Linked DNA regions of Homo sapiens. The gene in region 2 interacts genetically with the main gene of each other region. Each region holds a gene or a part of one and is shown on either strand. Other genes may lie near its edges.

What was found. A genetic interaction does not mean that the proteins touch.
Region 1: changes in POLD3 (region 2) and CACTIN together harm fitness more than expected from each alone (negative genetic interaction), as found in Homo sapiens cells (one large-scale study listed by BioGRID).
Region 3: changes in POLD3 (region 2) and TIMELESS together harm fitness more than expected from each alone (negative genetic interaction), as found in Homo sapiens cells (one large-scale study listed by BioGRID).
Region 4: changes in POLD3 (region 2) and STXBP4 together harm fitness less than expected from each alone (positive genetic interaction), as found in Homo sapiens cells (one large-scale study listed by BioGRID).

Annotation. Positions count from the first base shown.
Region 1 is NC_000019.10:3,623,991-3,627,967, reverse strand, and holds the start of CACTIN (splicing factor Cactin), read left to right. Parts: upstream 1-1,177; 5' UTR 1,178-1,205; coding exon 1,206-1,372; intron 1,373-3,805; coding exon 3,806-3,977. UniProt on the Homo sapiens protein: Plays a role in pre-mRNA splicing by facilitating excision of a subset of introns. Required for the splicing of CDCA5/Sororin, a regulator of sister chromatid cohesion. Involved in the regulation of innate immune response.
Region 2 is NC_000011.10:74,627,082-74,630,581, reverse strand, and holds part of POLD3 (DNA polymerase delta subunit 3), read right to left. Parts: intron 1,368-3,500; coding exon of another isoform or gene 1,366-1,367; coding exon 1,259-1,365; intron 1-1,258. UniProt on the Homo sapiens protein: Accessory component of both the DNA polymerase delta complex and the DNA polymerase zeta complex.
Region 3 is NC_000012.12:56,439,427-56,442,926, reverse strand, and holds part of TIMELESS (protein timeless homolog), read left to right. Parts: intron 1-3,500. UniProt on the Homo sapiens protein: Plays an important role in the control of DNA replication, maintenance of replication fork stability, maintenance of genome stability throughout normal DNA replication, DNA repair and in the regulation of the circadian clock.
Region 4 is NC_000017.11:55,170,949-55,174,132, reverse strand, and holds the end of STXBP4 (syntaxin-binding protein 4), read right to left. Parts: 3' UTR 501-3,184; downstream 1-500. UniProt on the Homo sapiens protein: Plays a role in the translocation of transport vesicles from the cytoplasm to the plasma membrane. Inhibits the translocation of SLC2A4 from intracellular vesicles to the plasma membrane by STX4A binding and preventing the interaction between STX4A and VAMP2.

The DNA.
Region 1 (3,977 bases), on a different chromosome or scaffold from region 2:
TTCAAGCAATTCTCCCTGCCTCAACCTCCCAAGTAGCTGGGATCACAGGTGCATGCCACCACACCCGGCTAATTTTTGTATTATTTAGTAGAGATAGGGTTTCACCATATTGGCCAGGCTGGTCTTGAACTCCCGACCTCAGGTGATCCGCCCGCCTCGGCCTCTCAAAGTGCTGGGGTTACAGGCGTGAGCCACCGTGCCCGGCCAAGATAAATATTTTAAAAGTTAGCTTAAATTACTATCATCCTCCATAAACAGGCCTTCCCAGCCCCGAGTGGTTAGAACTGCACGGGGTGGTGGTAGCAGCCACCATGGGCTAGGGGAGCTCAGGATGGGACATCAGCGTCTTCTAGGTCTCTGGCCTCCAGCCTTGCCCCTGAAGTCCGTCCTCCCACGCCAAACTTGTTTCAACAGCAAGTCCCCCAAACCCTGCTCACAACCCTCCCACGGGTCCCCAGCACCCACACCACAAAGCTGGGCAGCCTGGGTTGAGAAGGCAAGTGTTAAGAGTGACTTTCCCTCTCTGAGCCTCAGTTTCCCCGTCTCTAAAATGGGTTGATGGGGGAATACAGGGAGTTATCAAAGTTTTTGTTTTTTTTTAAAGCTTAACTCCCAAAATACATAGGTGTTCATTGGCAGGTGGTGGAGCATAACGATGACTCTCATAAGAAGGCTTTTCAGTTTCTGTCCCCGCGCCCGCCCTCTGCCCTCTGGAGCTGCCTGGCACCTAACACCTTCCCGGTTCCTCGCCTTTCGGGGACCTCGCTCCCCGGACACGCCTCTCCTCGGCCACGCCCCTGGCCACGCCAATGAAGCGCTACTTCCGACCTAGACCCGCTTCTTATTGGTCTCGCCTCGGCAGGCCCCTCCCTGCACAAGGTTCCTAGTTTGCCCTTGCCCCGCCCACAGTTTCTCAGGCCCCCTGAGGCGTGGGGACCCGCCTAGGGCTGCCTCCAGCACTGCCTGAAAGGAGACTCCGCCACCCTGGAGGCAACAATCCCACTGGAGTCAATCACGCGGTCCACATTTGCAGACGTAGTGGAAAGTCTGGGGTGTCGGAGTCCTTGCGGGCTGGGGCGACGGGATGGGTTGCTCTTTCCCGGCTCAGGCGCAAACGGGGCAGCCTGGAGAGCGCCGTGGGCGAGGAAGGCCCCCAGCGCAGGCTTCGGCTATTGGTGTTGGTGCCGCGGCCACTGGCCCAGCCGATGGGTCGGGACACACGCTCGCGCTCGCGGTCCGCGGGTCGCCGGGGCCGAAGGCGGCAGAGTCAGAGCGGGAGCCGAAGTCGGAGCAGGAGCCATGGGCGGCGAAACCGACGGCGCCGGGAGGACGAGGGACGGCGCAGACGGAGGCGGCGGAGCCGGGAGCGCAGGTGGGGTCGCTGCGGGAGCAGCGCTGGGGATCCGGCTCCTACCTCAGGAGCGCCCGACCGAGGGTTGGAGATCCCGGGGAACCGGGAAACCCCCGACTTACTCGGGGAGGGCTTCCTAGAGAAGGGGACAATTGACCACCGGTTGGAATTAACCTGGCAGCGGAAGGAAGGCGAGAGGCGTTCCAGGCAGGGGACCGGGCGGTTGGAGGGACAGCCCGGAGCCGGGTGAGCGAGGCGGCGGGGAGGTAACGAGAGATCAGATCATATCATATCGAGCCCTGTGTGCTCAGCACATTAGATCTTGGCTATTAGTCGGAGGGAAATGGAGAGTCTTGAGAGGAGTTTGGGTAGGGGAGTGACGTGGACTGACTTAACTCTGCATACTTTCTGGCTTTGAGGTGGAGAAGGGATGGAGCGGGGTAGGCAGGAGCGGCATCAGAGTAGGACGGCACAATTGTCCAGACAGTAGATGATGGCAGTCTCGATGGGAGGGAGGCTGTAGTCAACCACAGCGGGCAAAGTGCGTAGATTTCAGAGGGATTCTGGAAGTAGAGGAGACAACATTTGCTAATGGAGGTGGGCTGTGGGAGGGAAAAAGACTCGGTGTCAGCTGGCAGGACTCACAGCTGATTCCTAGTGCCTGAATCTCAGCTTCCCCATGGTCCTTTTCTTCTGGAGATGGGGCACTTGGTCGGATTTGCCTTGAGCCGGCTCCAGTACAGAGAAACCAAAATGGGGACAGGGACTGATTCCCAGACCGGGGCCCCAGTGCTGGCTCAGCCCCTTCGTGGCTGACACTCAGGCCAGTCTTGCCCCGCTCTGGGCCAAGTTCACTCATCGGTTGTTGGTTTTTTTGTTTGTTTGTTTTTGAGACGGAGTCTTGCTCTGTCGCCCAGGCTGGGGTGCAGTGGCACGATCTCGGCTGTTACCTCTGCCTCCTGGGTTCAAGCGATTCTTCAGCCTCAGCCTCCCCGGTAGCTGGGGTTACAGGTGCTTGTTGCCACACCCAGCTAATTTTTGAATTTTTTCGTAGAGCTGGGATTTCTCCATATTGGCCAGGCAGGTCTTGAACTCCTGGCCTCAAGTGATCTGCCCGCCTCGGCCTCCCAAAGTGCTGGGATTACAGGCGTGAGCCACCGCGCCTGCCCATAAGTCTTGTTAATGTCATCTTTGTGTTTTTTCGCCTACCATTTTCTGGTATTGGAATTATTCACAATAATTTGCCACTCTAGATATGTAATTAGAATTAATGTTCACGAAAATTCAGTTGAACTTGTGGCCAATATTTAAGGGCTCTGCAATGATTGGTTTCAACATAGTTTAGATTTTTTTGACATGAGCTTAATGGGTAGAGCATTTAACAAAATATTTGGCAGTTCTCTGTGTACAAAGACCCCTAAACGTGACTGAGCGCAGTGGCTCACATCTGTAATCCCAACACTTTGGGAGGCTGAGACAGGAGGCTTGCCTGAGCCCAGGAGTTCAAGACCAGCCTGGGCAACATAGCAAGACCCCTCTGTACAAAAAAATGTAAAGAGTTACCTGGGCGTGGTGGTGTGTGCCTGTAGTCCCCGCTACTCAGGAGGCTGAGGCGAGAGGATGGCTTGAGCCCAGGAGGTCAAGGCTGCAGTGAGCTCTGATCATGCACTCCAGCCTGTGTGACAGAGGGAGACTCTGTCTCTAATAAATAAAAATATAGACCTTGTCTCTAGTAGACTCTGTGTCTAGTAGACCTTGTCTCTAATAAATAAAATTAAAGGCCCCTGAACCACCCCTGAGGTTGTGCATCTTCCATTCCCTGCGCTCTACTCTGTTAACTCCTGTCCATCCTGTGGGACTAGTTCAAATACCACTTCCATCTAGGAAGCCCTCCCTTGACAGCCTAAATGTGTTCGGGTCCCCTGGTTCGTACCCTTATAATTCCTGCGCCACCAGCCCCAGCCACCTCCCTGCCCGCGCCTCCTCCCTCTCCCCCACACTCTGTCTCAGCCATACAGCCTCCTTGTTGTTCTTAGAATGTGGCAGGTCAGTGCCTGCCTCTAGGCCCTCGCTCTTGCTCTGCCTCGAGCACTCTCCCTCCGAATCCACCCATCGCTGCCTCCCCACTCCCTCCAGACCTTGGCTCAGTGTCAGCTCCTGAGAGAGCCCCTCTCTGACCTCGGCCCTGCAGCCCCAGCCCCTGTGCTCGGCATTGCTACTCTTTGTGGCTTCTGCCTCTGCCTAGTGTTGCGTGGTGTGTTTATTTGTTGATGTCTTCCTTGTTGGGGCCCACCAGAGGGTGAGCCCAGGAAGGCAGAAGCCATCGGTATTTGGGTCACTGCTGTGTCCCCAGAACCTAGAACAGTGCCTGCTCCCCCACGGGCACCCAGTAAGCATCTGTGGAGCAGATGACAGCTGCAGGCACTGAGCAGGCATCCATGGTCCTCTCCGCAGGTCAGATTCAGAGGAAGAGCGGTGGCAGCGCTCAGGGATGCGAAGCCGGAGCCCCCCGCGGCCCAAGTGGCACTCAAGAGATGGGTCCTCTCAGTCGGACTCAGGAGAGGAGCAGTCACGGGGCCAGTGGGCTCGCCGGCGACGGCGCGCACGCTCGTGGTCTCCTAGCTCC
Region 2 (3,500 bases):
CCTCTCTGGGATGCTCACGTGTCTTACTCCTACCCATTCTAAAGAGCCACTAAAACCCACGGAAGGACATTGTACCTCTCACAGGATATCACAGGCTGTAATTCTAAACACATAGCATGAATGGTAGAATCTAAATCCACAGAAGTGTCAAAGATGCTACACCTTTATCACAGATTCAGCTTCCTGCTACTATTTCTTGGGTCTGTTCATTTCTTTTGCATTACTGTCAACTGTATATATAATTTGTTTTTTTTTCACTCACTTGTATAGTTGAGCTAATATCCTTTTTTCGGAAGCCTCTCTTACCATTTTCAATTCCTCTTAGAGTAGTTTCTGGAAAAAGCAGAATCTTACAAGTTTCAGAATCTTACAAGTTTGTCCTTTGATAGCTCAGTAGGTTCCTTTTTTGCATTCATTATTCTTCTTTACTCTCCCTTTTAGTATCTGTTCGTGTTTGTCTCTGTATCTTTATGTGATGCTGAAATCCTTTGGACTAGATTTCCCCTCATTACTTAAAATGTTTTATACCCATTATGCCATGAATTCATGGACAATTGATTAGAGCAGTTCAAACTTTTCACCACTGTGTCTCAAAGTGGGCTTTTCAAGGTAGAGTCGTCCAGCATATCAGTTCAACCCATTTAACTTTCTTTTTAGCCTCCTTCTTTTTCTATATACTTTATACAATTTGGGGCAAGATCTTGGCTCTTCAAAATACTTGATATTTTTTTAAAAGCATATTAATGTTCCCGGTAAAACTCTTGCCCTTATGAGGTTTGCTTATCTTACAACATTGCCCACAGCCTAAAACTAGAAGGGTCCACAGTGTCATTCCCTTCTAACAATGACACTGTAGGTTGTTCCAGTTAACCCTAGTTTTACCTGTGTGGACCACCACCAGTAATACCCTGGCTGCCTAGAACGTCACAATTTTTAAAAGATTCACATGAAGGTAGCTAAAGGAATATCCTCCCCTTAAAAGTAAAAAAAAAAAAGAAAAGAAAAGAAAAAGTCTTAGATAATATGTATAATAATAATTCTTATCCTCTTTCCTTCTGTGTTATTTTGACAAATTTCCAAAAGATCATGGTTCTAGTCAAAAGGCTAATGCAGATTTCAAACAGAAAGAGGTGCTATGGTGTCTCTTAATGCTAGAATTACTACTCTCATTGTGATCCTTAATCCATTACTTTTTTAGCTCCTTGAACATTGAAAGTAAAATTGATCCCCCTAACCCAAAATGAATGGTAATGCCCACCTTCATCTTCACTGCTATCAGATTCAGGAAGTTTGATTCTTCTCCTCTTTTTCCTCATGTTTTCAGTTTCCTTTGTCTCATCATCAGATAATGCTACTCGCTTCCCCCTGTTGCCATCCAGAAATAAATTAAGCGTGTTACACAGAACAAAAATGTAAGTATTCACATGCTCTTATGGGTTTTGCTTTATAACTCGTGGTCTTAATTCCAGAGGGTAGAAAAGGACGGCCAAATAGTCCAAGAAGGACTCTTGTTAAGGATACTCTGCTAACTGACCACAACTAAGTCACTTCATGAGGTGACTTGAATAAAAAAGTTCTAGAGTTCTCTAGAGACTGCTGGAAGCTACAACCAGGTTATCAAGAATCTTTCCAAATTCCTTCTTACTTCCCTGATTGGCCTTTCAATTATCCAACAAGCATTAAATAAGCAGCTACTACATACATACAAGGCTCTTTGCTAGCCATTGAGAATGCAACAATACAGAAGAAAATACTGTTTTCAAGAAGCTCTGGCAAACACCACTGGCTATAAGGCAATGTGGTAGATTTAACTGGACAAATAAAATGTTATGGAATATAATTCATATTTGGAAAACTTAAAAGCTAAGTAGAAGTTCATCATGTAGAAAGGGGAAACATATTTTAAAGAGAAAGAACAATATGAGCAAAGGCAGAGATATCCTTTTAAGGTGATTCTAATGACATAATAATAATAAAAAAAATCCTAGACTCCATCATGACATTATTTAGCTCCTCTGGATGAATGGATACTCCATCACACTCCTCATGCAACCAACAAGTAATTTATCAAAGGCCTACTGAATGTTAGAGAAACAAATATATACAAGACATAATCTTTGCCATCAAGTACCTTATGTCCTATATAACTTTAAATACCAACTTTCCTTTCTACCTTGAACTAGAAAAAGAACAATTAAACCCAAAGTAAAAGGAAACAATAAAGATAAGAGCAGAAATCAGTGAGATAAAAAATAAGAGAAAATTAACAAAGCCAAAGTTGTTATTTTTGGGAGATTAATTTTATTAATAAGCCTTTTATAAAACCCATTTTGAAAACAGAAAAATATAAATTATCAATCAGGAATGAAACAGTAAAGAAATCTGTATCGAGTACAGGTTCTACAAACTCGAAGAATAAAGTTATATAATGAACGGGTTTATGCCAATAAACTCAACAATTTAGATCAAATTTTGACTGAGTTTTAAAAACACAACTCAGTCAAAACTGATCCAAGAAGAACTAGAGAATTTGAACAGCTCTAGTTAAATCAAATTCACAATAAAAACCTTTCCCACAAATAAAATCCAGCCCTGGATTCACTGGTAAATTTTATTAAACATTTGAAAAATATACACGTATATATAAACTCCTTCAGAAAACAGAGGAAACTTCTCCCAACTGCGGTCATGGATCACTTAATGACAGGGACATATTTTGAGAAATGCATTGTTAGGTGACTTCACTGTGTGAACATCACAGAGTATACTCACACAAACCTAGATGGTATAGTCTATGCTCCTAGGCTACAAACCTGTACATCATTGTTACTGTACTCAATACTGTAGGCAACTGTAACACAACGGTATTTGTGTATTTAAACATCTAAAAAGAGAAAAGATACAGTAAAAATACTGTATAAAAAAGATTAAAAATGGTACACATGTATAGGGCACTTACCACGAATGGGGCTTTCAGTACTGAAAGTTGCTCTGGCTGAGTCAGTGAGTGAGCGGTGAGTGAAATGTGAAGGCCCTAGGATGTTACTGTACACTACTGTAGACTTTATCAACACTGGATACTCAGGCAACACTAAATTTATTTTAAAATGTTTTTCTTTCTTCAATAATAAACAGCTTACTTTAACTGTATTTTCAATTTTATAACTTTTTGGCTCTTTTGTAATAACACAGCTTAAAACACAAAAAATTGTACAGCTGTACAAAAATATTTTCTTCTTTATATCCCTATTCTATAGGCCTTTTTCTATTTTAAAAATTTTTTATTTACTTTTTAAACTTTTTTTGTTGAAAGCTAAGACCCAAACACACATTAGCCTCGGCCTACACAGGGTCAGGATCATCAATGATCATTGTCTTCCACCTCCACATTTTGTCCCACTGGAAGGTCTTCTTCAGGGGCAGTAACACACATGAAGCTGTCATCTCTTATGATAACAATGCCTTCTTTTGAAATATCTCCTAAGGGCTGCCTGAGGCTA
Region 3 (3,500 bases), on a different chromosome or scaffold from region 2:
ATTGGGGAAGTGATAAATGTCCATGAAATCTTCATAATTTATGTTCACAGATTGCAGTAAAGACAGGCGTAATAAATTATGAAAGTATTAATTTGGGGAACTAATAAATGTCCATGAAATCTTCACAATTTATGTTCTTCTGCTGTGGCTTCAGCCGGTCTCTCCATTCGGGGTCCCTGACTTCCCGCAACATCATCTATCTTATATCACTATAGAGGGTCGTTTGGTTTTCTCCAGCACATCTGGGCCTAGATTTGAATTGAAGTCTAGGAAGCAGATGGTTGCATTGATCTGAGGTTATGTATGGTCTTTTGCAGGGTGAGTGCACTGAAAGGAAAAGAGATAGAGGCCACACGGGAAAATGGCCAAACTGATGTATATAGTGATACAGTAGTAGGATATGTGTGACCCTGGTTTGATCATTTTGTTTTCTAGCTCAGAAATCTTCAGTGGCTCCCTGGCTTAGGTTCTAAATCTTTGAACTGATGGACAAAGATGAGGTTTTTCCCATAAAGCTGGTTCCAGCTGCTTTTCCATTGCTTTCCTGTTGGACTCATCTATTCATAATGGCTCCCTCTTTGGTTTTGCACTGGCAGTTCTCTGCTTAAATGCCCATCCTATTCCCAGCTGCCTTAATCCTATGCAGCTTTCAAAGGCCCAGTTCTAATCATGCTTCCTCAGACAAAACCTCCTTGACCACTTTAACCTGAAAAGAGTACTAGTTTTTTAGTTTTTTTCAGTATCACGTATTTAGAGCTTGTACTGCCTTATCTTTTACATTGTTTGTTCTATATTTGTGGATTTTATTTCTGCAACTACATTTCTTTTTTTTTTTTTTTTTTTGAGACGGAGTCTCACTCTGTCGCCCAGGCTGGAGTGCAGTGGCACGATCTCAACTCACTGTAACCTCCACCTCCCTGGTTCAAGTGATTCTCCTGCCTCAGCCTCCCGAGGAGCTGGGATTACAGGCACCCGCCACCACACCTGACTAATTTTTTGTTAGTTTTAGTAGAGACGGGGTTTCATCATGTTGGCCAGACTAGTCATGAACTCCTGACTTTGTGATCCACCCGCCTTGGCTTCCCAAAGTGCTGGGATTACAGGCGTGAGCCACCGCGCCTGGCCTCTGCATCTACATTTCTTAAATTTCTTTAGCGCTACCATTGCACCTGCACGCTATCTTTTGCCAGGAAGGTTCTCCCTAAGCATTTAGTAACTGACTATAGAGTCTGACAGATGGAGAGGAAATTAATATTTGGGGCGGGGGAGGGGTTCTGTTTGTTTTGTTTATTTGTCTTTTGAGACAGGGTCTCACTCTGTTACCCAGGCTGGAGTGCAGTGGCACAATTTCAGCTCGTTGCAACTTCAACCTCCTGGGCTCAAGTGATCCTCCTGCCTTAGCCTCCTGGGTAGCTGGGACTAAAGGTGTACATCAGCATGCCCGGCTGATTTTTGTGTTTTATTTTTTGTGGAGACTGGGCTTCGCTATGTTGCCCAGGCTGGTCTCAAACTCCTGGACTCAAGTGATCCTCCCACCTCAACCTCCCAAAGTATTAGTATTACAGGCGTGAGCCACCATGTCCAGCCAGGGATTCTTACTTTGTGCTCAGCACTGGGTAGAGTGCTTAATATCACTGCTTCTCAAACTGTCTTGGTAAAGGACCAGGTAGATTTTTCCCTCAAGCTGTTGCAGATCAGTAGTGTTCTAAAAGCACTTCTGTAAAATAAAATTACTAGAAAAATAACATTTAAAAAGACATAGAGAATACAGGCTTTTTATTATTATCATCATTAGATTCAACAAACATTGGCTGGGTGCAGTGGCTCATGCCCGTAATCCCAGCACTTTGGGAGGCCGAGGTGGGTGGATCACTTGAGGCCAGGAGTTCAGCAGCCTAGGCAACATGGCGAAACCCCATCTCAACTACAAAACACAAAAAAATTAGCCTGGCATGGTGGCACAGGCCTGTAATCCCAGCTACTTGGGAGGCTGAGGCACGATAATAGTTTGAACCCGGGAGGCAGAGGTTACAGTGAGCCAAGATCACGCCACTGCATTCCAGCCTGGGTGACAGAGGGAGACCCTGTCTCAAAACAAAACTGTAAACTGCCTGTCAAATTGCCCTAAGATGTTCTAAGTGCTAATGCTTTCTTTCTGTACTTACCTTGATGCAGACTGCTAATAGTTTGTGGATTGGCAGTGGTCTGAAGACCAAGGTTTGAGTAGCATTGCTTTACATGATCTCATTTACACTTCCCTAATATCTTGTGAGGGTGGGTATTATTATTATTTCCTCAGTATACTGATAAGGAAAGAGATTTAGTTAAGCCACCTGCTCAAGTTCACCAGTTTAGTACCAGACAGAATTGGAATTCAAGTGCTAGATGCCATTTTGTTCATACTACTGGGTCTCAAAGAGGATCCTTGGAGCAGAGTTGGTTTGGGGCAGGTAGAGTGTTTTGTTTCGTCTTCAAAAAGTAAGTTTATTTGGTCGGGCGCAGTGGCTCATGCCTGGTATCCCAGCACTTTGGGAGGCCCAGGTGGGCAGATCATGAGGTCAGGAGTTTGAGACCAGCCTGGCCAATATGGTGAAACCCCATCTCTACTAAAAATACAAAAATTAGCTGGGCATGGTGGCGCGTGCCTGTAGTCCCAGCTACTTGGGAAGCTGAGGCAGAAGAGTTGCTTGAATCCAGGAGGTGGCGGTTGCAGTGAGCTGAGATCGTGCCACTGCACTCCAGCCTGGGCGACAGAGCAAGACTCTGTCTCAAAAAAAAAAAAAAAAAAAAAAAGGTTAATTTGAATTGCAAATACATTTAATATTTTATCTGTTGTTTTCTTTTGGTTCTTGCATTTTAATGCCTCCAAGTATTGATTTCAGATGCATATTGCTTCATCTGAACTGCTTGATACTTAGTTGAGTAGGAAAAGTAACTAACATCCCTTTTAAATGTCCAGTTCCATTGGCTCTGTGGTGTTTGACAAAGTTCTCACCTGGTCTATGATGAAATGTGAAAATAAAGTCAATGTAATGAATTTTTTCATGAAGTCATATTTATTAAATTTGAAGGACAGTATTTTATCCTGAGATTTTTGTCTGTAGTTTTTTTGGTGTTAAAATGGTAGAAACAGAATGCGTATAGTAATTGTGTGGAGTGTTGTTTATAACGGCTGTTTGAGATATAATTCATATACTGTAAAATTCACCCTTTTAAAGTGTACAATTCAGGCTAGGTGTGGTGGTTCACACCTGTAATCTCAGCACTTTGGGAGGCCAAGGCAGGAGGATTGCTTGAGGCCAGTCAGGAGTTTGAGACCAGTGTGGGCAACATAGGGAGGTACCAGCTCTACACAAATTTAAAAATTAGCCAGATGTGGTATTGAATGCCTGTGGTCCCAGCTGCTTGGGAGGCTGAGGTGGGAGGATTGCTTGGGCCAAGGAGTTGAGGCTATAGCGAGTCATGATTGATCTGTACTCCAACCTGGGCTGGTCAACAGA
Region 4 (3,184 bases), on a different chromosome or scaffold from region 2:
AACTTTGAAATGGTGAAATTATCCTGAATTTTATCATGGTGAACCCAATCTAAGCAAGAATTCTTAGAAGCAGATAACCTTTCATGGTTGGGTCAGAGAGAGAGATATGACAATGGAAGAAAGTTCAGAGAGGATGAGAGAAGGGTTAGAAAGAGATGTACATGAAGGGACTGGACTTGACTGGCCATTGCTGGCTTTGCAGGTGGATAAAGGGGGTCAAAAGGCAAGTTCTATGACCTCAAGGAACTGAACCTAAATGGATTCTCTCTGACGGCCACCAGAAAGAAATACAACCCTGCTGATAATTTGAATTTAGCCCATTAAGACCTTTCTGACCTACAAAACTGTAAGATAATAAATTTGTAATGCTTAAGTCACTAAATTCATGTAATTTTAAAGGGCAACAATAGAAAACATATATATCACAAAATCAAGAAATCCTACTTGTGGGTATTTCATCTAGAGAAATGAATACTTATGTTCACACAAAAACCAATACGTGGATGTTGATAGCAGCTTTATTCATAATCACCAAAGCCTAGAAACAACCCAAATGACTTTCAGTGGGTGAATGGCTAAAGAAACTGTGGTATATCCATACAATGAACTATAACCCAGTAATAAAAACAAACTACTGATACACACAACGATCTGGATGAATCTCAAAGGCATTATGCTGGGTGAAAGAAGCCTGTCTCAGAATGTTACATAATACATGATTATTTATATGATATTCTCGAAAAGGCAAAACTACAGTTACGGAGAATAGAGCAGTAATTGCCAGGAGTTGGGGTGGGGAAGGGTGTGTTATAAAAGCATAGCAGGAGAGCACTTGAAATGATAAAACTGTTCTGTATCTTGATTACGGTTGTGGTCAAATAACTAGACATGTGTTAAAAATTCATAGAACTCTGCACTCCCCCAAAAGTCACTTTTTTCTGCATTAAAAAATAATAAACTTTAACTATAACAACTCAATGACAAAACAAGGCAAAACAATGAAACAAATCTCATTGCTGACACAGCTTTCTGGGAATTTCCAATCCTAGAGAATGAATGTATCACATACATGGTTGGGGAAGGAGACACAGTTACTTCTCTTTCCTTTGTGCCCTGGAAGCCCCTCAACATCTTTCTAGAAGTAGAAGGTGCTCCAGCAGGGGTTTTGGAAACTTATCTCAGTCTTTTCCTTTTCCAGTAAAAGGAGGAGCTGGCTTAGATAACCTCTACAGTCCTTCACAGCAGGTAACTAGAACTCAGCTCAGTCCTTGTGTAGGTGCAGGGTGACCTACCTGTCCTGGCTTGCCCAGAGCTGAGGGAGTTCCCAGGATTTGGGACCTTCAGTTTACAAATCAGGAGTTAGTTACTCTAACATGACTCAGGGAAGTCACATAACTCATCCGAGCCTTAGTTTTTTCTCATATGCAAATTAGAAATAATGCTTGCCCTATCTCACCAAGTTATTACGAGATGCAAACTTTAAACTGTAACTTCTATGTAAATGTGAGTTGGTGGGATTATTACTAACTTTTAGAAGAAATGACTTAGGGACAGTCTTCAAATTTGGAAAAATAAAAGTATTATTAAAGGAAGTTATGCAGTTGAAATATGTGTGTGTATCTGACTGCAGCATTGTTCAGTTTGCAGTTTCAGTTTTGAGGCTATAAGAATATATGCATCCAAGAAAGTAACTTTTGTTTTTCATAATCTGCTGAAGTTTTAGTTACCTGCATTCCAGGACAGGCTATGGCAGTGAACCTTGGCTACACATTGAAATCACCTAGAATCCTTAAAACACAGGTGCCAGGGTCCTATTCTCAGAGAGTCAGGGTTAATGGGTCTGGGGTTTGGCTAGGCTTTGTAAATTTTAAAATCTCTCCAGGTGTTTCTAATGTGCTACCAAGAGCCTCTTAATATACCAGACCTGGTCATCGCCCACATGGGCTTGCACCTTTAAGATGGTGCCACTTGGAAGTTTGTTCTTACTACTAACCCAGATGAGTCAAACCTTACCTACAGTTGAGTGAGCTCCCTCCACAAGAAAAAAGTCTTAGATATGCCTCTAAGTGAGAGGACTTCTGATCTCAATAGGGCAATAACTCACATCTACAAAGAATGACCAACAGTGGGACCAGTCACTCAGGGTAATGACACTATAATTATTGCTGTTTTTATTATCCAAAGGAGGACAGTTCTGGATTGGGGGATGTATTAGTTTGCTAAGACTGCCAAAATAAAGCACACTAACTGAGTGGCTTAAGCAACAGAAATGTATTGTCTCACAGTTTGGAGGCTAGAAGTCCAAGGTCAAGGTGTCAGCTGGGCACCGCTCCCTCTGAAGGCCCCAGGGGCGGGGGAGGGAGGGTTCCATTCTAGGCCTCTCTCCTAGCATCTCCTAGGTAGTTCCCTGGCTTATGGCAACAGTGCCAATTTTAGGACTTCAACATACAAATTTTGGGGGGACACAGTTCAACCCGTAACATGAGAGCAGTCAGTTTCCATGTACATGGCACCATGTATCTTATTCAGGTGTACTCTAAAATACCATGATGGGGTATGGTCAAAACGGACTGGAATCTGGCCTAGGCTTCAATGGGGAGGTATTCCCTGGTCAGCAAGGAAAAGCTACAGAAGGTTAATTCACAGATTATTCCTTATAGATAAATCAATAATCTTGGCTGATGTTAGATGTTTTAAAAACTCAGCCTTAAGCAAAATAAGAATTAAAGGAGTTAGTAAGTTCCCCCTCAATAAGAATATCTAAGCAAAATCTTGATGAGCTATTGGCCAGGGGTGCTTTGGAAGGATTCTTTCATTTGAAAGGTGGTTGGACTAGAGGAACTTACAAATTCACCTCAATTCTAGGATTTTGTGCTTCTTGCAAAGACTATTCAGAGGCACACCTGATGTTTTGTGGTAGAGTTCTGCACCAGGCACTATATCCAAAAGAAGGACACTTTAGACATGGCTCTAAGTCCAAAGAGTTAATGTGAAAATCCTAATGATGCATCAACTCTGCTAAAATCCATTGCTGGTTTTACTGCACAAAAGTTTTCAAGGCAGAAAAAAATAGGTCCAGGATCTTTGACAATGGCAAGATAAAGACGGTAAACTTAGATGTCCTGCAGGACTGCTCAACCAATGATACTGCTCTGAGATAAGTTGACATCCATAATCACAGAAT